4 linked regions of the Homo sapiens genome follow. The protein of the gene in region 3 purifies or fractionates together with the protein of the main gene of each other region. This does not show direct contact. Each region holds a gene or a part of one and is shown on either strand. Other genes may lie near its edges.

Region 1 (5,279 bases), about 32 Mb from region 3:
CAAAAAAAAAAAATTTTTTTTCAACAATTCTTAACAATCCATACAATTTAAAAACCATTTCAAGTCATTGCCTATAACACTTCTTAGTTTACCCATTAATAACTCACACCATTGCTTTTAAGCGTGTGAATGTTTCCAGCAATCATCAACTTTAAAAATGGACAACAATGAAAAGATGTCTAAGAGTCTCCAGAAGCATCCAAATTTTGGATCTCTCCTACGTATAGCACAAGGTAGAATTGATACAATGTGCCTTCCAGCTTGCCTTTAAAGCTCTCCATATGTCTAGTTCTGAGGTGAAGAGATTAAAAATAGGAAGAGCCTGGTAGGGAGTGAAGATTCAAAATGCATTGCTAGATCTCACACCGGTTATATTTCCTCTCTAAGATCTCAGCTGCAGTTGCCAATGGGGATATTGAAGGGTACACTTTAAAGTTGGCTAAGCATTACGGGGAGAGTTTCCCACCATTTCTTTCCCTTTAACCTGTAAAATTCTTTCTGAAGTAAAAAAGAGTTTTAATGGGGGCTCAATGCTCACAGTATTAACTTAGAAAGACCCTTGGCATGAAGGGAGCCTGTTCCAATATCTCCTCTTGGGGTCTGATAATTCAATGAGAGAACCAGCCAAGAGAATAAATTAGGGAACAGTCTCCTTGGTCTGTTTAGGACAACCTTTCACATCCTAATCTTTTACTTCCCATGTTTCCCTCTCGTTTGAAAATGAAATTTACCTTAGCTGACTAGCCTGCTTTTGTGTTCTGGTTGCAAAAATATTTTGTGAATTTATGATAATCGATACTTTTGAATTGTTTTTACCTTTCAAAGTGTATTCCGTTGAAAATACCATGGAACATTAAGGAAATGGTGGAGGATGGGGTGAGGAGGCTGGTAAGTGAATTGTTTCTTTCCTGTCAGAGAGCAAGATATTAAAACAAAAAGTGACAAATAAGATTGGCTTGGAAAAGTGCCTCTCCACAATTCAGAAAGTCAACCTACATTAGGCAAAGGCAACATTTCAAAGTGCAGAAAATCTGGCCCCAGGTATAGATAATGCCTGTGGTACAGAAAAAAAAGCATACATAACATTCAGGAACACCGCACTTGGAGAAATAAAACACATAAGTTATAAGTGATGTGGAGAGATCAAAGTACATATAAATATTTCAACACATCCTATTTTTACTAGGAAAGATATTCAGGTCTTAACACACTATCAGAGCTAAATTTAAATGTTTAACAGGATGGTTGTATACGGCCATTCCTACTGCTTCTGATGCTACACTTATTTATATTTACTGCACATGAGTCCTAAGTCTACATGAAAACTGATGTTCAACATCAAAATGTACACCCTTAAAGAAGGTAAAAGTGTAGGATCTTGCAAATGCTAGAAGCAGCTACTGCCTGTAAGTGAATCTTACACATCTCATCTAAATTCCTAAGCCTGCTCATTTGGTTAGACACCATGTAATCAAGTTCCTTTGGCAGGGGTTGAGTGATAAAGCTGAAGATTTTTGCTAGCCCCGTAGAGAAATGGGGAGAAATTTGGCAAGGCATCTTTGACGTGGCTCAGGAATTAGAAATATTGGAAATACAGACTAAGACTGGAAATTGGGTTTACTAAGATACTTATCTCACAAAACAAACTCTGTTGTTTATTAAAAAAATAAAACTAACTTTTGTTCCCTCTTTAGGTGTCATGTATACATAATCAAATCTAAAAGTATTTCTATTAGGGAAAAAACTGGGCCAATTACTGCTAAATTAGCTAAGTATGTGAAAATAAAATTTATACTACAGGAGGGGGAACTGTGTTTTTTTGTTCTGTAAATACGGAGTTAGCTATATTACATAAAGTTTCTACTATAAGGTAATATTAAAGAGTCACCCCTAAGCTCTAGGAATGAGTGTTATAATATATTAAGAAAGTCTATTCCTTTTCCTTGCTCATTTATAGTATTTGTAATTAAATAAGAAAAATATAGAATTTAAATAACATTCACACCAATACTTAAAGATTTATCATAAGGTCATAATTTGGTTTTAATTCTAGGTTATGGAAGCATAAAAATAGTCTTTGCTTTGTAATGTTCCTAGATGTCTAGTAAGAATTAAGTCCTATTAACATAAATATTAAGTAGGACATTATGTACTCTTCATTATCCTAAAATTTTAATATCCTAAACATTATAAGGAGTTAAACAGAAAACTGGATAAAATTAGAAAATAGAGTGCTTTCAATACACAGGGTTTAAAGATTTTTAACAATATTTCTTTAACAGGATTTGTCCTTCATTTTAAAGTTCTAGCAGACTGATATCTGAGTATGGAATTTCCAGAAACTACAACATATTGTTTGGGTGGAATAGGCCATGGCAATGGAACCTGTCCTGTTAGTATTGGCGGCTCCTGGATGCCAGCATTTGCCCCAGTTCACGAAGACTCCAGTCTACATAAATTCCATAAAGCATGGAATTTGTTTCTCTTCTAATAAAATGGAAGCAATAACATCTCACAGTTATAAGTTGATTTTAAAGTACACAAAAATACAACTATTTATGCCATGGAGTTACATGAATAATATTCCTAAGAGACTTTAAATCTTTAATACCCAACTTCTGTCAAACACTTTGAAGCACAAAACTATATTATGAAAGCATGTGGCATTCAATTTCTGACATTCATCGCCAAAGAAGGCAAAGCACAACACTAACACATCTCTGAAATGCAAATTCCATTAAGTGCAAATTTCTAAAACACAAGGTCAACCTAGAAACACGTTTTAAATTTCAACAAGTTCTCTTTTTAAATTAGTATGCTCAGTATATAATTTTCAAACACAATCTGAAGTGATTTTCTAACGTTTGTTCTCAGTCTAACTTTTGCTCCCTCATAAAAATATACTCTCATGGGTCCATTTTCAGTCTTCTAATTTTTGCAATTATTAGCTCAAAATATCTAACCTTTTAGGAACATCTTTTCTTTCCACATTTTCAAATATGAAAAAGGCTTTGCTTAAGTCTTACCGTAGGAACACCACCAGTAATAGCATTCCCTTCTGTTTGAGCTTAAAGTAAGTCTGAGCAGCTCCAAAGGGAGATATTTTCATGAAATTTATGAACCCTCTCAACCAGAGTTGAGAATTAGTGCAACTTCCTTCGAACTATTTGTCAAGTGAATACTGTAACTAGACACAGAAAGGGATAGTCATCCCAAGAACAAGGTACTATTTTTTGACTTTCTAACTCCACCTGGGCACAAGGGAGATGCAGAACCACGCTAATCCCAGGAGAACTTTGTAGACGCCCGAGGGTCTTACACTGAGCTGGAAAACGGAACCACCTGCTTTCCGCCCACATAAACCTCTTCAATATTTCGATCATCTCCTGAAAGAAAAATCAAGGAATCATGTATAAAATCCTTTTGTGTCAATAAGTATCTTCCTTGCCATTGGGAGAGATTTTTTTTAAAGATACTTCTAGGAGAGGAAATACTAAAAGCTGCTTTCCCCCAACCCTCAGATTGTTTATAATCTGAACAGGAAGATATGACTAGTAGAAAATGCCATAGCTAATTTGATGATTAGGGTCTGAATTCTGCACCAGAGGCAGAAATCACATAAAGTTGAATCAACCCCCTATAGCTGTCCTTTCTCAGCTGAAGTGGTTGGTTTACATTTTGCCCCCACTGAGAAAGAAATACTACTCTTTACGCTCCAGAATCAGCTCCACAAGAAGTAACACATGCATCTTTCCATCTTGAGTTCACTCAGTCCTGGGCTCACTGAACAGAATGGGAGGCAGTGTAGAATATTCTGCATTACTGTTTCTCTCTCTCTCAGTGAATGGAATTGAATGTGAGTACATCACCAGCACGTGTGGTGAGACTCTACTATACATTTGTCACAAAAACATGGCAGGGCAGTATGTCAGATACCGAATGAGTACAAGAGGGTTGAACATGAAGATCTCTTCACCTTTGGCCTTCCATTCCTCAGCTTAGAATTTATGACTAGAGGGAGTCATGTGCATTTCAAATAGAACCTTTAAATAATGTGCCACCAATGGGCTTGATGCTTCAGACTGTTAAAAAAATAATGAATCAAAGCAAATTATCATCCACAGAGTTTAATATATGGTAGGATAAATACATAGAGCCATACCCAAGAAAAAGACAGGGAAAGGTTCTATTTAATATTTAGCATAGAGACATGCATCTACCTACCTAGATAGAGGAACTTCTGGATAACAGCCTAAAATGGAAAATAAAAGTAATAAGAAAGACTCATTTGTGCATTTAGAAAAGTAAATTCACAGCTGATAGTGGTTGACAAAGCCCAGAAATACGAATTTGTTTCTCAATGGCAAAATCTACTTCTATTAATTAAAAAAGAAGTGGCTATGTGCTTTATAAAAACCTCCCAGAACAAAAAATAACCCACTGGCAATTAACAGAAGTTTACCTATTGTGTGAAAGTTCTGGGTATGTGAATTTTGAGTCATCAGAGAAAAGGTATTATATAAATTAAAGAAATTAATTTAGTAAAATAATTCAAATATTTCAAGACGGGTATGATGTAAGACAAGCTCATCCAACCTGCCTTATTTTGTTGTTGTTGTTCTGTTTTGTTATGTTTTGTTTTAGGCTTTTAGCAGCCTGAAGCCATGGTTTTTAGTTTCTGTCTCTACTGATAAGCAGAAAAGAGGGATGAGGGAGGGGGCTTTACTGGCACAACCTGAAACAGAAACTAAGAACTCCCTTGGACACCCCTGATATAAGAAAAATCACTAGGACTATTCCCTAGAGCCCTATTCTTAGAAATTTACTCTAATCAGAGAGTAAAAGAATAAGCAATATGAAAATAATGAGGGGGTCAGGACACGCTACCCTCAAATCAAACACAGGAAGGTCACTCTGACCCTCCCCTTACCCCTTACCCCAATGCAGGTCATAAGACCATCACGTAAGGGGTGCCCTCCCTATACCTGATCTCTGAAGCTAAAGGATCACAGAGAAGAATCTGAACAAGCAGGCCTTGCTAAGTTCTCTCTAGCTTATTACCACTGGACCACACTCTTTGTCCTATCATATTTCTCTACAACTTTCCACTCTTCATCAAACCTAGCATAAAAATATCCAAGTTTACCTGTTTCTTGGGTTCTTCACTTCCTTATGAAGGCACCTATGTCACATAAAATTTATATTAAATAGGCCGGGTACAGTGGCTCACGCCTATAATCCCAACACTTTGGGAGGCCAAGGCAGGTGGATTACCTGAG
Region 2 (5,279 bases), on a different chromosome or scaffold from region 3:
CCACCCCCTGTGCCCTCAGGCACCACCTGTTAACACTTACTTGGAACCAGCCAATCCCAGAGTTCATCAGCTGGATCCGATCAGAGCTGCAATGGAAGATGCCTGTGAGAGCGGCCCCTGAAGTCCCACTCATTCACCATCCACTCATTCAACAGCGATTTATTGAGCACCTATTATGTGCCAGGCACAGTGCGGGCTCCAGTGAACCACATGAAGCCCTTGCGTCGTGGAGCTTGCATTCTAATGGCAGGGGTGGGGTGGGGGGCATAGAGGGGGCACAGAAAACAAATAGCAGTCCAGTGAGCAGAAAAATCAACCTCAGGAGTCAGGGCTGTGGTGGACAAGGAGGCCCAAGCTCCTTCAAAGGGCGCCCCAATTCCTGGCTCGACAGTTTGTTGCTATGTAGGATTGTGGGCACAGGGCAGCCAGATAGTCTGATTTGATATGTGCACAACTCATTTATATTAAACAGCCCAGCCCTATGTGGGCTGATCAAAAGAGCCCTGGGCCTGACTTGTCCCCAGAGGCTCCAGCTGGCAGCCCCTGCACTCACTCTGGGGCCACAGGAAAGTGGCGGGGAGGGAGAACAGGCAGGGTGCAGGAGGCAGCTGGAGCCCTGCACTTCTGTGCCGGGTGACTGTCACTGCCACGGCCTGGGAGGTGTCCAGAGTGGGCTGGCCGCGGCTAGGGTTTGCCTGTGCCGTGGCTGCTGCAAGGCCTACTTCATTTTCCTCCCCATTCCCTCACATGCAGTCCTTGTCAGCAGGAGCATCCGGAAGGACCTCCCTGCCTACCCTGGAGCCGCCTTCACCTGACAGCCACAAAGTCGGTGTTTAAAGAAACCCATGGTTACCAGGCGGGACTCATTTCCATCAGCAGAATCTTCATGATGATTTGTGTGTTTACCTGATGTTATTCAAGTTGAGTATAAGTTGGTCACCTTTGGTGTAAAACTGAGCTTCCGAGCTGGCTTCCTGCAACAAGAGAAGCCCAGGCCCCATTGTTCTCAAGAGGATCCGAGTGTGGAATTAGGGGTTATGCAGGGAGGCTCTGGGGTCTGAATCTCAGTTCCTGGCTCTGGGACCTTGGCAAAGGGTTTGACCTCTCTGGGCCTCACCTGCCTCATCTGTTAAATGAGATAGTACTTGCCTCCACTCCCCATTTAACAGATGACAGTCTAGGCTTGCTGTGGGGAATGATAATGATGACGATGACGACGACGAAAGCAGCCACTATTCATAGAGCCCTCACTCCCTTACCCTAGTGTGTAGGTGGCCCAGCTCAGGAAGTTTTCATATTCCATTTTTCTGGACACACTGATTGGCTCAAGAATGGGCAACTGACTCAGGCTCATTCAGTGAGAGTCAGCCCTGAGATGTTTGCTGGAACTATTGGAAAGATAGGTTCTTCCTGCGGTGATTGCCAAGCTGATAGGATATGAGCCTAATGCAGCCTGGGGCACTACCATGAGGGAATAGCTTGCCTGAGGATGAAGGCAGCACAGAGGAAAACAAGGCTGCTAGGTGGGAGAGAGGAGAATGAAGAGGATATTGTTTGAGCACCTGGGTCCAGCTATTCCCGAAGTCAATAGCATCTAGACTTTTTAGTTATAGGAGCTAATACAATTCCTTTTGTGCATATGAGTTGAGTTTCTGTCCAGAGATTCCTGACTAAGAAAGTCACAGGGTTAGAATTGGACCCACAAAGCTCCTGGCTCTTGGTTCAGAGCTCCCTGTCCCCTGTCCCTGCTAAGTGATGAGAGTGGTGGAAATGTTTAACAAAGCAAGAGGGCGAACAGGAAAAGTAGACAGAAGGGTCCCCCTGGTTGCTGCCAATATCGCAGACAACTGAACTCACGATGCCCAGGGTGAACAAAGGGCGGAGGGCTTCACTGGAGGGAAACACTTCCAGCACGATCAGTTGGGCCACCTTGGCATGGCCTTGGTCTATAAAAAACTCGGGAGTGTCCTGAGTTAGGATCTTCACGATCTGGGTAGATCCCAGCTTATCTGCAGCCTGGAAGGAGATCAGACCCACATGTGGCCTCCCAAGTGCCCACCATGGCCCACAGGCTCTGTGTGTGGCCTGGCCCCTGCCTGCCTTCCTGGGCTCCCTGCTCCCTCACGTGTTCCAGCCACCCTGTCCTTCTTGCAGATCCTTGAATGTTGTGTTGTTCTCCCTACCTGGCAGCCTTTGGTCTCCTGTTCCCTCTGTCTGGAATGCCCTTCCCTTCAGGGAGGCCTCCCTGACGTCCCAGACTGTATCAGGGGCCCAGAGTGTTCTCATGGCCCCTAGAACCTGTCCTGTGTTACTGCAGCTGTAATGGAAATACTATCCATGTGATGATTTGCTTCAGGTCAAACTGGCCTGCTAGACTGAAATCTCTGTGCGGACAGGGATGCGGTTTGAGTGTCCCAGTGCTGGAATGAAACACTAGTCCCACTAGATTCTCCTCCCCAGAGGCCTGTGTCCAGACCACAGCAAACACCCCTCAAGCTGCAGATGGCAAACAGACCAACCTTTTCATTGATCAGCCCGATGCTTGACTTCAGCCGATGGGCACTCTCAGGAAGCTGAGGGTGAGAGGAGCCAGAGAAGGTCAGTTGGAGGGCACAGGGAGGCACATCTCCTGCACCCCACTGCTGGGAGGAAGGTTTCCCAGGACCCCAGAAAAGCTGGGTGGGCCCAGTGACCCAAGCCATGTGTCTGTCATTGGTGGAAAAACAGCCCCTAGGTCAGCTTCTATGGGGCATGGGGTCCTGCTGGCCTGGACTTTTACTGTGGGCTGGTGATGGTTGTGGGTCTGGGGGCAGCTTCCTGATCTCAGAGGACATAGAGAGGTGATTTCATTTTTACTGCAATCATGAATGGGCTAGTTGGTGACCACTCCCTATTTTCTCGCCATCCCAGTCCCCTGAGAGCTTGGTTATTGGTTGTCTGTCAGCTGCCCTGAAGTTCTGCCATCCTCCCATAACGTTGGACCAACCCTTTCCCCCTCTGGACCTCAATTTCCCCGTCAGTCACCCGGGAGGAGGTGGCACAACATAGTTGACTGGTGGTGGTTATCGGCTGTGCCCTGTTAATAAGGATTCCAAGGTTGTGTCAGCATCCAGACTCAGTAGAAAGGAGAGCCTTGATCGATTAGTGATGTCTGCCATGAGTGTCATAGTGGTGAGCAGTGGCACAGTCGCCATCCCTGGACTACTCACTATCTGAGATGTATTTATCACCCCTGGACTACTGCATATCTAAGATGCCTTTTGATTTCACGAGACTGTTATTTGGTAGAGGAAACATTTGCATCAGATTCCAGAGGGTAGAACCATGACTGGGGCTGGATGTTACCGGGAGGATTTTAGGTTTAGAGCTATGTCAGAGGCAGGGTCTATTAGAGGAGGGAGTGAGATCTCCATTAAACTGAGCCTGATGGAGGATTCCTGCTTAGGGGCACCCTGTGTTCAGGAAATTCCTATGATGTGGCCTGGGCGGCCCTATTCTCTGCCTTGTGCTGAGGTTTACCACAGAGTCCAACAGGACCATGAATTCTTCTGGAGAGAGCACAGCAGCCACTGCAGCTTTCACCACGTCCTGACTCACGATGAGGCTGAACGGGATGTTGTCCAGGGTGGGCATTGTCAGGGAAGCTGCAGAGTTATTGAACCACTTGGTCACCTTTCCCTGTGAGTCCAACAACTTGGCCTGAGGAGACAGAGCAGGGAGTCAGCTAAGAATTTTAACTCTGCAGCTTACCCAATAGCAACCTAGAAGGAAATGACACCATTCAGCCTGTTTCCTTTTTGTGCATTTGTTGCCAGGAAGCTTAGCCTGGAGCTCAGGTGTGTGGCAACATCTACTCCATCTTTGCCCCTCGGATAATCTCTGACTTTTATTTTTTGTACCAGATATCTTCGTTTTTTTTCCCATGCTTCAACTTCTCAGACACCTCAAACCCTTTGGATGGAGGGAAAATTAAAAACTACAACAAAATGGAAGAAACGATTTGATGCTGCAGTTTTCCAAAGGATCCATAGAAACTAGTCCAGGGGCCAGGCGTGTTGGCTCATGCTTGTAATCTTAGCACTTTGGGAGGCCGAAGTGGGAGGATCATTTGAGCCCAGGAGTTTGAGACCAGCCTGGGCAACATGGCGGAACCCCATCTTTACAAAAAATACAGAAAATTAGCCAGGCGTGGTGGCGAGTGCCTGCAGTCCCAGCTACTCAGGAGGTTGAGGTGAGAGGATCGCTTGAGCCCAGGAGGTCAAGGCTGCAGTGAGCTGTGATGGCACCACTGCACTCCAGCCTGGGTGACAGAGTGAGACTCAGTCTCAAAAAAACAAAACAAAAGAAACCTAGTCTGGGATTCATGCTACCAGGATGGTCTGGCCCTTTGGGGCGTCCAGCCACAGCATGGCTGTGCAGCTCCACATTGGACAGGGAGCTGACAGTTACTGGGCACTTCTGGTCTGCCAGGCATGGTGTGGTCTCATTTCATCCTCTCCTCAGTGGCCATTATTACTGACATTTTGCAGACAAGGAAACTGAGGCTCAGGGAGGTAAAGGAACTTGCCCAAAGTCACATAGCCAGGGAATCATAGAGCTAGGAGAGAAACTTAGGTCTGTGTTTCTTGATCCTTGGCTTTTGTTTCAAGGTTGTCATAGGTTTGGGGATTGGCAGGGACTTGCCTGAGAGAAAGGCTGAGGGCCCAGTGTCCCCACTCGGGCCCCCCCATGTCACTCTGGGTGACAGTGAGACTCAGTCTCAAAAAAACAAAACAAAACAAACTTGCATGGGACATATTCAGCCTGCAGTGATTTTTCTAGATCAGCCCGTGTCCTAATGGTGACCAGGATTTTCTCTCCTAACACAGGCCCATGCTATCTGACTCCTGGTGGTCAGAGAAGGGCAGCAATGTCCCCACTTCACCCTCAAGGTCCTGGGACACTCACCCCCAGGTAGAGCTGAATGGTGTCACCCTTGATGGCAGGATACAGAAGGTCAAACTCCAGACGGTCAATGCTGAGGGAAATGGGCACTGCTCAAGGACAAGAAGAAAGTTCTGTGAGGGTGGAGGGCAGTATTGGAGGGGGAAGTTGGGGGGCTGCTTCCAGGTGGAGCTGTACTGTTGCATGGGGGGGCAGGTAGGGAGGAGCAGGTAATAATGATGTTGATAATAATGATGCAAACAGTGATGACAGTGACATTTATCGAGCATCCACTAAGTGCCAGGCCTCTGCATGTCAGCTGGTTCATCTGCATGATAACGTTAGGAAGTAGGTCT
Region 3 (4,803 bases):
ATTCTCATTCTTTTGTTAAATATTTGAAAATGAAAATTCTCAAAAAAATGTTTTAAAGAAAAAATATTCTTATATATATATAAACACAAATGTGTGTATGTATAAATGGAGATATATGTGTGTATGCGTATGTATTTAAATAGAGCTGCAAACATATTGGGGGAAACATATAATGGTATTTAGGGTAGTAATACGACCTTTCCAATGGTAAGTTAGCCAGGAACTTTAAAAGTTTATACCACCTGGCCTATTAATTTCATGCCTTAGAATTTATCCTGTGAAAACATGTGTTGGACATTAAAAAAAAATTTGGCCCAAGTGCTCATAGTAGATCTAATAAATCAAAATAAAAACATGATGAATACATGATTCCTACTTACTAAGAGAAACATTAGAATGATATATTTGGGAGGTGGCCAATTTTTCTTTTTTTAATTCTTTTTTATTTTTTTTAGAATTTTAGAAAATATTGAATTTTAAAATTTTAGAAAATATTACCTTAATGGGGTGACTTTCAGTGAGACATCTGGCTCTAGTAATTATTAGCTGAGAGTAAAAGAGGGGATAAATAGCAACTTTTAGTCCTCACTATGGAGTCTTAGCTTCAATTCTGAAATTCTTGGACACTGTGAAGCCAGTATTATGTTAGGTGCTTCCTCCAACTTATTGAAACATTAAATGATATTGGGACCTGGATTTTTTTATTATTTTATTTCCTTATTACAAGTAAGGTAACTATGTCTTAGAAAGAAAGAATAATCTATCCAATATCACCTAGGTAGTTTACGGAACTGCAGATTTTGTACTATTGCTCTCTATTTCCAAAGCTTATAGTGTGATTGTTTTCCACTATGTTTCTACACAGAAACACTCATTTCAGACATCACAAGGGATGAGATTCTAAGAGAATTAATTATGTTTGTGAAACGTGGATCAGGGCATGCTGGAGTTTGTAGCAAACTATAGTTATCAGTGATTCTAGATGAGCAGGGCTAGTAAAGGCAAAGGATAAAAATCTGTCTCTCTAACCATGGTTTCTCCAAAAAAGGTTCAGGCTGATTTACCTAAGAGTCCATCTTTGTGACTGTTAAACAAAGACCTACATGTCCTGGTTTCATTAGTGAATTGGTTTTTTGTTCAGCAAATATTTTACAGCAGCTTTTACATCCTTATTTCTCAAGCTATAGAGTATAGGATTCAGCATGGGTGTCACTACCCCATAAAACAGAGAAATGAGCTTGTCTAATGCTTGCAATTTTTCTTCCCCAATCAGGTCTTGAGACTTCGGTTTCGCATACATAAAGAAGATGGTACCGTAAAATATGATCACCACAGTCAGGTGAGCTGAGCACGTGGAAAATGCCTTGCGTCTTCCTGTGGCTGAATTCATTTGCAAGATGGTGTAGAGGATGAACATATAGGAGAAAAAAATGACCATCAGTGGAAGAACCAGGAAGGCCATATTTGATATCACCATGGTGATAATATTGAGGGATATATCAGCACAGGCCAGCTTGAGGACAGCTAATATTTCACATGCGAAATGATTGATAATATTATTCCCACAGAAAGGCAGTCTCATGGCAAGTAATGTTTGCACAGCTGAATTTATTCCACCGGACAGCCAGGACACAGAAGCCATCAATACATACGCCACCTTGCTCAGGATGATGGGGTATCTCAGTGGGTTGCAGATGGCCACATAACGATCAAATGCCATCATGCCAAGAAGCAGACATTCTGTTGACCCCATTGCAAACCCAAAGAACATCTGCACTGCACATCCAGAGAAGGAAATGTTTCTTTTCTTTGAGATTAAGCTCACCAATGTTGAGGGAACAGAGGAGGATGTATAGCAGATATCCAGGAAAGAGAGGTTGCCCAGGAAGAAGTACATTGGTGTGTGAAAATGAGAATCAAAGATGCTGGCTATGATTAGAACACCATTGCCAATTAGAATCACTAGGTACATAACTAGAATGAGAGCAAAGTAAACAATCTCAATCTTTGGGTATCCAGAAAGACCCAGAAGAAGAAATTCTGACACAAGTGTCTGGTTAATCTCACCCATGTCATCTGCTTTCAGGAAATCAAAAGAAGATCTAACATGAAATGTATTTACTGCCAAGAAACAAACAGTACAAATTAACTGAACAATCATTCTTTTGACACATATTAGAAGGAGTGCTTGCTTGAAGTTCTGACATCCAGTTATCTTCAGTAATGTGTGTGACTAGAATACAATGAAATTGGGAATGATGGAAGCACCTATACCGCATCGCCAATATGTGAAGATCTACCCACGATCAGACACACATGCAGACGGAACCTTTCCTGCTGTTGAGGACATGTTCCTGAGTTGAGGACACTCTCCCGAGCTGAGGTTTCTAAAACCCCTGGCCAATCAACAACTCTAAGCTTAACATCTTCATTTCATCAACCCCAGCAAACAAGCAGTAAAGGGGGCAAAAGACTACTCAACAAAGACTGGAATTTTAATTCAGCAATTTATAAAGTGTTTAAAATTTCACAGCAACTTTGACATTTTTGTGTGTTTATATTTTTTTCTAGGCCTGATACTAATACCTTATAGTTAGTTTAATTGTGTATTTTACAGACACTTAATAATAATACATTGAATCACATACCCTGAAATTTGACAATTGTTTAAAGGCATAGTTAGTTGTTGATCTCATAGTATCTTGTTATGACTGTTCCTATGACAAGACCATTGCCCAGAACAGCTCCGCATGAATGTGATAGTCTTTGGAGAACATTATATAGTGTCTTTACATATTTTACTCTGTAGCTTAAGAGTCTGTCTTGATAATTTACTCATTTAAATCAACCAATAAAAACAGTAATAATGTTTAAATATTTCATATAAATATGTATACATGTGTATGTATACCACTTTACCATTTACAAATTATAATATTCTTTATATTAACCCCATTTTTCAACTATAAAATATGGAACTTGGCCAAGATTAACTAGGTAGTAAATAATAAAATGTAATGTAAAGCTAATATTTTCGACACAAAGTCTAGTTCTTGGCTTCACTAATTTTCATATACACGTAAAGCATCTAGGAATTTTTTTTTCTTTTTTGAGACAGAGTCTCACTCTGTCACCAGGCTGGAGTGCAGTGGCACGATCGGGGCTGACTGCAACCTCCACCTACAGGCGTGCACCACCATGCCCAGCTAACTTTTGTATTTTTAGTAGAGACGGGGTTTCACTATATTGGCCAGGATGGTCTCCATCTCTTGACATTGTGATCTGCCCACCTCAGCCTCCCAAAATGCTGGGATTATAGGCATGAGCCACCACACCCGGCAAACATCTGGGAAACCTAAAAACCTTCAGATTCTCTTTTAGTGTTCAGGCCAGTCCTGAGATTCTGCATTTCTTGCAGGTGCCCAGGTGACGCTTATGCCACTGGTCCCAAAATCACTTGAGTAGCAAGGCTTAGTCTATACTAAGTTGGCCAATTATCTAGATGTTTCTAATTCAAGCCAGTTTTTTTTGCCTTATTGTGTAGATTGGCAATAAGAACCTTGAAAATGTCAAGAGCATAATTCTTTGATGTTTTACGGAAACTCCAGATTGACACCATTTTTTAAAATACCCTTTAAAAATATTATTGAAACACATATTTTTAAAAAGCAGCATTTTTAAAGTGCCTGTCATTACAAAGTTCACAATTTAGGTAGGGATATAAGAAAAGAACATATCAAAATAATTTACAGTCACTTTCTATAGCTTACATGAAAATTACAGTTTTTCCCAGAAGGAAGAATTTTATGAGAAATAAATTAGGCCAAGGAGAACTCCGGAGTTTCAGTGTTCAGCTGAACCTGGGAGTATGGAAAAGAATTAGACAGGGTTAAAAGAGAAAAGGGATATCTCAAAAGTGAGAAGTTGGACCAAAGTTAGGAGTAAGCCGACTGGCAGCACAAGGGAGTTTCTGTGAAAGAGTGGTGGGAAACACATCTGAGAAAGAAAGCCTGACAGGTGCATATAGAAAGGCTCTAAAATCAGGCAGAAAAAGTGTCATTTCTTTTGGTGGAAAAGAGGTCTATCATTAGAAAGCACAGAGCATGGGGTAAGCACCTCGCCCATTAGACTTTAGCAGTTCTCTAAATTTGACCTCATAGAATATGGTGTTACAAGATTTTTTAGTAGAAATGTAACTCAGGGAATTAAAGCATTTAGATTAGCGGAGTTGTCACTAATTACAGAATAGGCATGATAATTGATCTTTCTATAATCACTACTAGATTTAATTTTGGTCAAAATCACAAATGTAGGTTTTGCATGGGCTAATAGCTTTGAGAATGTTAGCACATCCACTCTTCCCCACACTGTGACTGTTGGTCACATGATAGTCACTGGGAAGTTTTGTGTAGAGCAGATATTACTAGGAGTCAGAAATCCAACTCAACAGAATCTTTACTATAGGAAAAATTTAGTTAAGGATACACAATAGAAATATTTAAACTTTGAAGAGAAAGGCAAGGAAGAGAATATACAATCTCAATCTTAAAGACAAAAAAAAATGAGCCCACAATAGATTGTTAATTTTTATTATTCAGCTTTAAGAAGAGAGAGAAGGAGGGAAACGAAGCAGGGAGGAAAGAAAGAAGGGAAGATGGGAGGAAGGGTAAAAGGGAAGGGAGGGCAAAAGGAGGAAAGGAAGAGAGTAAAGGAAGGAGGGAAGGAGGGAGGGAAAGGGGAGGGAAGGGAAGGGAAGGAAGGGAAGAAGGGAAGGAAGGGAAGGAAGGGAATGAAGGGAAGGAA
Region 4 (5,279 bases), about 32 Mb from region 3:
ACTTTTAGTCTACTCTGTAGCAAAATCTTAGGCAACTTAAATATATCAAACAGAATTGTTCCTTACTGCAAGAGCTTATACATTCTAAACCATCCTATTCTAATCAAAGCATGAGTTCATTGGTAATGGCTATAATTGCAGGACAGAAAACAAAAATCACAATTTGCTTATTCTAACGTAAAGTACTCTTTTGCTTTCACTAAGTTCCTGGTTACTGCAGCCCAAACTCAATTCACCCTGTATCTCAGCCTCAGGTAAAAGAAAGACAACTGGATTTTCTCTTTAAAATTAAGCTCCTGCATTTCAATAAAATATTTATTAAGATCAGATAAAGATTCCTGAAATTACCAGAATTTTCTGGGAAATCTGAATGAAGGAAGACAAAAATCAGAAATGACAAAGAGTTTTCTGGTGTTCACCACTGATTTAAATGTTAGAAGGGAGGGGCTGCTGTTCAATAGAGGTTGAGTGTGAATCTTAACGTTATAAATCTAATCCTATTTGAACATAGGAACCATATACACAGCAGCTACTCTAATAAATGTGTTCATATTTTACATAATTTTAATTGAACACAGCACATAGCTCCAGGCTCCTACTTTGAAGTAGCAAGCTAGCTGTTCTACTGTATATTAATATATTATAGGAACACAATAAATGTTTCCTTAATTGAAGATTTTTTTCCACGTCTTATCTGGTATTAATCAAGATATGCAAGAATGACAGCTCATTTTTTTTCTAATTTTGTATATTGTAGTTAAATACTTGGTGAGCATATATATAATGTATATACACATTATATATGTATACAGACACACATATATACACTCACCAAACACTTAACTGCAATATACAAAATCAGGAAGTCTAACAGCTGAAACAAATAGGACTAAGAGCACATAGAAGGTAGGGAGTGATAGAGGGGATGAATGCTGTTTTCAAATACATGGATGGCTGTTATATAGAAAGAGTCTATAGGGCAAAGGTGGAACCAGAAAGTAGAACCTATATATTTATCTCTTTTGTGGTGAGAACACTTAAAATTGACTCTCTTAGCAATATTCAAGTATACAATACATTGTTATTAATTACAGTCAGGATATTTACGATAGCTCTCTTGAACTTACTCCTCCTAATTGAAAGTTTGAATCCTTTGACCAACATTTCCCAACCCTCATCCTCCACTCCCCCAAGCCCCTGGTAACCACCATTCCAATCTCTGCTTCTATGAGTTCTACTCTTTGAGATCCCACATAAAAGTGAGACCCTGCGGTATTTGTCTTTTTATGCCTGTCATATTTCATGGAGCATAAATTTTCCAGGTTGTTGCTGCAAATGACAGGATTCTTTTCCATTGTTTTAAAGCTGTGAAGGCAGCACCTGAAAATTGTTAAGCATCCAGATCTGTGTTGGCTGAACATTTGTGGCTGGCCCCATGGATCCCTTACTACTTTTTAGTATCTATCACAAATAACTTAAACCTCTATCAAGAACAGAATAAAGAGTAAGGTTTAGAGGGAAAGATGTTCCAAAGAGCTGGGAATTTTAAAGTGACACTTTGTATACACACAAACAGACAAAACATGGCAACAAAAAGAACAGAACAGAATGAAGCCATTTACCTCCTCTTTGGCAATGCGCATCTCATCTGTAACATTAGAGAACACTGTGGGCTGGACAAAGTAGCCTTTATTCCCCCACGGGCCTCCTCCACATTCCAGTTTGGCCCCTTCTTTCTTCCCACTCTCAATGAGGTCAAGTATTTTATCATATTGTTCCTTGTCAATCTATTTGAAAAATATCACATGAAAAGAAAAAAAGTAGTCACTTGTAAAGATAACACATTGCTGGGCCTGTTAACAAGGGCTTCAAAATGCTAAAATATTGCAATTAAACCAAATATTGAATCGAAACAGCTAACAGAGGTTCAGATTCATTCTTTGGATATATTTTCTTCTCATGACTTTTAGGGGAAAATCTCTTGAAGACAGATATTTGTATTTAACATTTGTTTTATAGTTATATAGGAAAGCATTCAGCACTGCAAACACATAAAAAACACATAAATGACAATCATCATTTATTCACTCTGGAAGAAATGCCTGTTAATCTAAATACATTTACCTGGAAACTATTGTCCCGGCTGAAATGAAAGGAGGGAAAAGAGAAAAACAGAACTTTGATACTGAGTTTAATTAGATCTGTTGGGAAGCAGATGCTTTAAGACTGTTCTTAGAAGACTCCCGAGCCTCTGTTTGATCTCCCCATTTCTGAATCACCCACTCTGACCTGTCCGATGCCCTTGGATATCCCATTCTGACCATAGTCTGCGCACCCTTCCCAGTTCTGGTCCCACTGGGGCAGTCAGTAAATCTGCTTCCAATTTCTGGCCTGTCCTGAATGTCACCATCCTGCTTCATTAAATGAGCCACATCTAACTATGTGCCAAGTATTACAGAACTTAAATCGTCTTTATTTAAACACTATTTTTATAAGGAAAATAAATGAGTTTGGAGTTCTGGTTGTGAACACCAGGAACACGTACCTCTTCAAGCACTGAAATCTGGGGCTAATTTTTGTCTCAATTTCTATTTTGTGACATTGAATAACTGGGTGACTCTTGGATTCCAAGTAACCGGTGAGGGCTGCCTATCTCAGGTGTAGCAGGGGTTAAGGATTAAAGGAAAAACAGGAGATCTAGGAGCTAAGATGGGTTGGAGGGTGGAAGCTCTTGTAGGTTTAACTTCCCACTACTTGAAAAGTTTTATGTTTCACTTTCTCTTACTCTTCTCTGACTCTGCAAATCTTCTTTATCTTCCAAAGCCAAGAAAAAGCTTCCATAAAGTTATTTCTAACTGAATACAGCTCAGCCCCCATATCTAACTAGATTAAGCACTATTTGAAACTAGAAACTATTTTCTAAAATTTGGCACAATATTTGGTACAATGTTGCTCAACAGTCTTTAGTGCAATATTTAATATAATATCCCAGAAGGAAAATATTCCTTCATTTCCAGCAGATTAAGAAAAAAATAGTGTTAAGAAGAAATATTTAAATTACTACATAGGTTGAATAGTAGCAGACTAAGGGGTGGGGTGAGATAAATTCTGCCTGGGTAAGGTATTCTAGTTTCTCAATAAATAGTCAAGGGTCCATGTCACTCCACATAAAGCTTTCTGTCTTATTGGAACATATTAATCTGACTATGCCCTCAACATCATGATATCTGGTTTTTATTTCAAGATGTATTTCCCAAGTCATGTTTTCCTGTCTGTGACCACGTTGAATAACCAGTGCCAATCAAATCCCTGCATACATACTGGAGAAAAGGGCTGAAAAGCCTTATTTGTTGGAAAACTTAGATGGTCGCTAACTTATAAAACTACAGGCCTTTGTATTTCAGTGCCTTGCTACCGACAATGTGGTCCTACAACCAGCAGTTGTGGCATCACTTGGTAGCCAAATGTGCTTCTTTGACCCCACCTCAGATCTACTGAATCCCCGGGCACAGGAAAGATTGAGGAACACTGTGGTGGAGCTTGGGACTACAAACAAAAAATTAGGCTCTACTTAGAGACTGGTCAGTTTTGTCTGGCTAATTTTGATTCACCACAAATACAGACCTTCTTCAGAAGGCATCAGGCTGACCATATATAAACTTGACCTTCTTTCTGGACACCTGGGACTGTCCAATAATGCTAGGATGTAGCTGGGGCTCTTTCATGTGATGGGCCATTGGCCTATGGGCTAGTCTATGAAATGTATTAGGTAGGTCATGATATGGTAACAGTCTCAAAGGAAACATTTTAAGGTGTTTGAATGGGTAAATTCTTTGATTCCTTAGGCTTAATGGGTTAAAGAAGATGAATTGGGAAAAAGCACTTACATGTTCTCAAATTATTCAGAAACCATGTATCAACAAAAGCAATGAATAGATATAGAAGTAATTGATCTGTATGATAATTGTCACCATGGGTATAAATGGAAGCATGTAATTTTTATTTATTTACTAGACATTTGAGCATGTGGACCAAGCACTCTGATGGATACATTTTATAGATTATCCAATTGCACTGCAGAATTATTCTTCAAGATTGAGGTTTCTATGCACATTCTACACATAAGACAATAGTTTCAGGGAGGCTGGATTTTAAATCCAGTTTAAATCCTATATAACTGTAACTCCAAAGTCCATCTTTCCACACTATTATAAGGTGCTACTCTGTGATAATTTTAGTATCGTTTATGTGGCTATCACAATTTCTGTTTCAAATGAAAATACTAATTTTTCCAAGTTTAAGACAATATATATTTTTTCTATAAAGTCAAATAGGAAAATCACTTGAAATATGAAAAAGATACACACATGAATCCACAGATATAATACAAATATGCAAAGTATATATATATATTTTGTAATTGCTCTAACCCCCAAATAATTTGTAATGTTCAAATTTTTTTAAACTTTAATTTTTTCCCCTAAAACAAATCGTTTTGACCATTATTTTTTCTATAACCTTTTTGATGTTATATTTAATGAGGAAGATTCCATCATTGTATTTAAAAGCCTCAGTTCACTCAACCACCCCTGGATGAGGCAATAGGCTAAAGCTTAGTGAGTGAGTATCCCCTTTGCGTAAGTTTTTTCTCCTAACAATAGATGAATATTTAATGGTAAAGGAGCCCAGGGCTTTTTAGTCTTTTGTTTCTCCAAATTCTAACATACCTACTTATCCTACTGACTCAATGGAACTTGTGATAAAAATCTATTCACTTATAGAAACTAAATTCTTATATTAATCAGATCACTGGATTCTATTCATTTATAGAAACTAAATTCTAGATCACTGGATTATTTACTTTAGAATCTTACAAATAGGAATTTTTAAGTCTATTTTAACTTCCTTATCTTAAAATCAATGAGGTATTCCAGCTCAATTTTTGAGTCTTTGGTTGAATTGTGAAGATGTCCTAATGGAGGAAAGTACTGCCCAACAATTAGGCATTAGGTATCTTAGGTATTCTCTCCTCTCTTCAGATCTATCAATCAATCATCCATCAATCCATCAACAAAATAAGAAAAGTGCTTCACTTTTAGTTAGATAGATAAATAATCACAACAAAAAACATAGAATTCCATTCTTTTTTGAAATGGGAGACCAAGTCAAAACTGATTTGAATATATCTCTTGGCATCCATATACCAAATATGAAAAAAAGGGCAACTACTTTTAAGTACTCATTAAACTCAAAGACAAATACAAAATATAATGGGATTA

What was found. Proteins that work in one complex are often made in the same cells at the same time.
Region 1: the proteins of OR13C3 (region 3) and GDA purify together in Homo sapiens (affinity purification with mass spectrometry; one large-scale study listed by BioGRID and IntAct). This does not show direct contact.
Region 2: the proteins of OR13C3 (region 3) and BPIFB1 purify together in Homo sapiens (affinity purification with mass spectrometry; one large-scale study listed by BioGRID and IntAct). This does not show direct contact.
Region 4: the proteins of OR13C3 (region 3) and ALDH1A1 purify together in Homo sapiens (affinity purification with mass spectrometry; one large-scale study listed by BioGRID and IntAct). This does not show direct contact.

What each region holds. Positions count from the first base shown.
Region 1 is NC_000009.12:72,246,379-72,251,657, reverse strand, and holds part of GDA (guanine deaminase), read right to left. Parts: intron 4,253-5,279; coding exon 4,225-4,252; intron 3,387-4,224; coding exon 3,316-3,386; 3' UTR 909-3,315; coding exon of another isoform or gene 820-908; 3' UTR 1-819. UniProt on the Homo sapiens protein: Catalyzes the hydrolytic deamination of guanine, producing xanthine and ammonia.
Region 2 is NC_000020.11:33,299,653-33,304,931, reverse strand, and holds part of BPIFB1 (BPI fold-containing family B member 1 precursor), read right to left. Parts: exon of another isoform or gene 5,079-5,279; intron 5,034-5,078; coding exon 4,948-5,033; intron 3,700-4,947; coding exon 3,520-3,699; intron 2,574-3,519; coding exon 2,520-2,573; intron 2,017-2,519; coding exon 1,858-2,016; intron 975-1,857; coding exon 907-974; intron 87-906; coding exon 41-86; intron 1-40. UniProt on the Homo sapiens protein: May play a role in innate immunity in mouth, nose and lungs. Binds bacterial lipopolysaccharide (LPS) and modulates the cellular responses to LPS.
Region 3 is NC_000009.12:104,534,653-104,539,455, forward strand, and holds OR13C3 (olfactory receptor 13C3), read right to left. Parts: upstream 2,205-4,803; 5' UTR 2,072-2,204; coding exon 1,118-2,071; 3' UTR 1,097-1,117; downstream 1-1,096. UniProt on the Homo sapiens protein: Odorant receptor.
Region 4 is NC_000009.12:72,910,336-72,915,614, forward strand, and holds part of ALDH1A1 (aldehyde dehydrogenase 1A1), read right to left. Parts: intron 1,788-5,279; coding exon 1,623-1,787; intron 1-1,622. UniProt on the Homo sapiens protein: Cytosolic dehydrogenase that catalyzes the irreversible oxidation of a wide range of aldehydes to their corresponding carboxylic acid.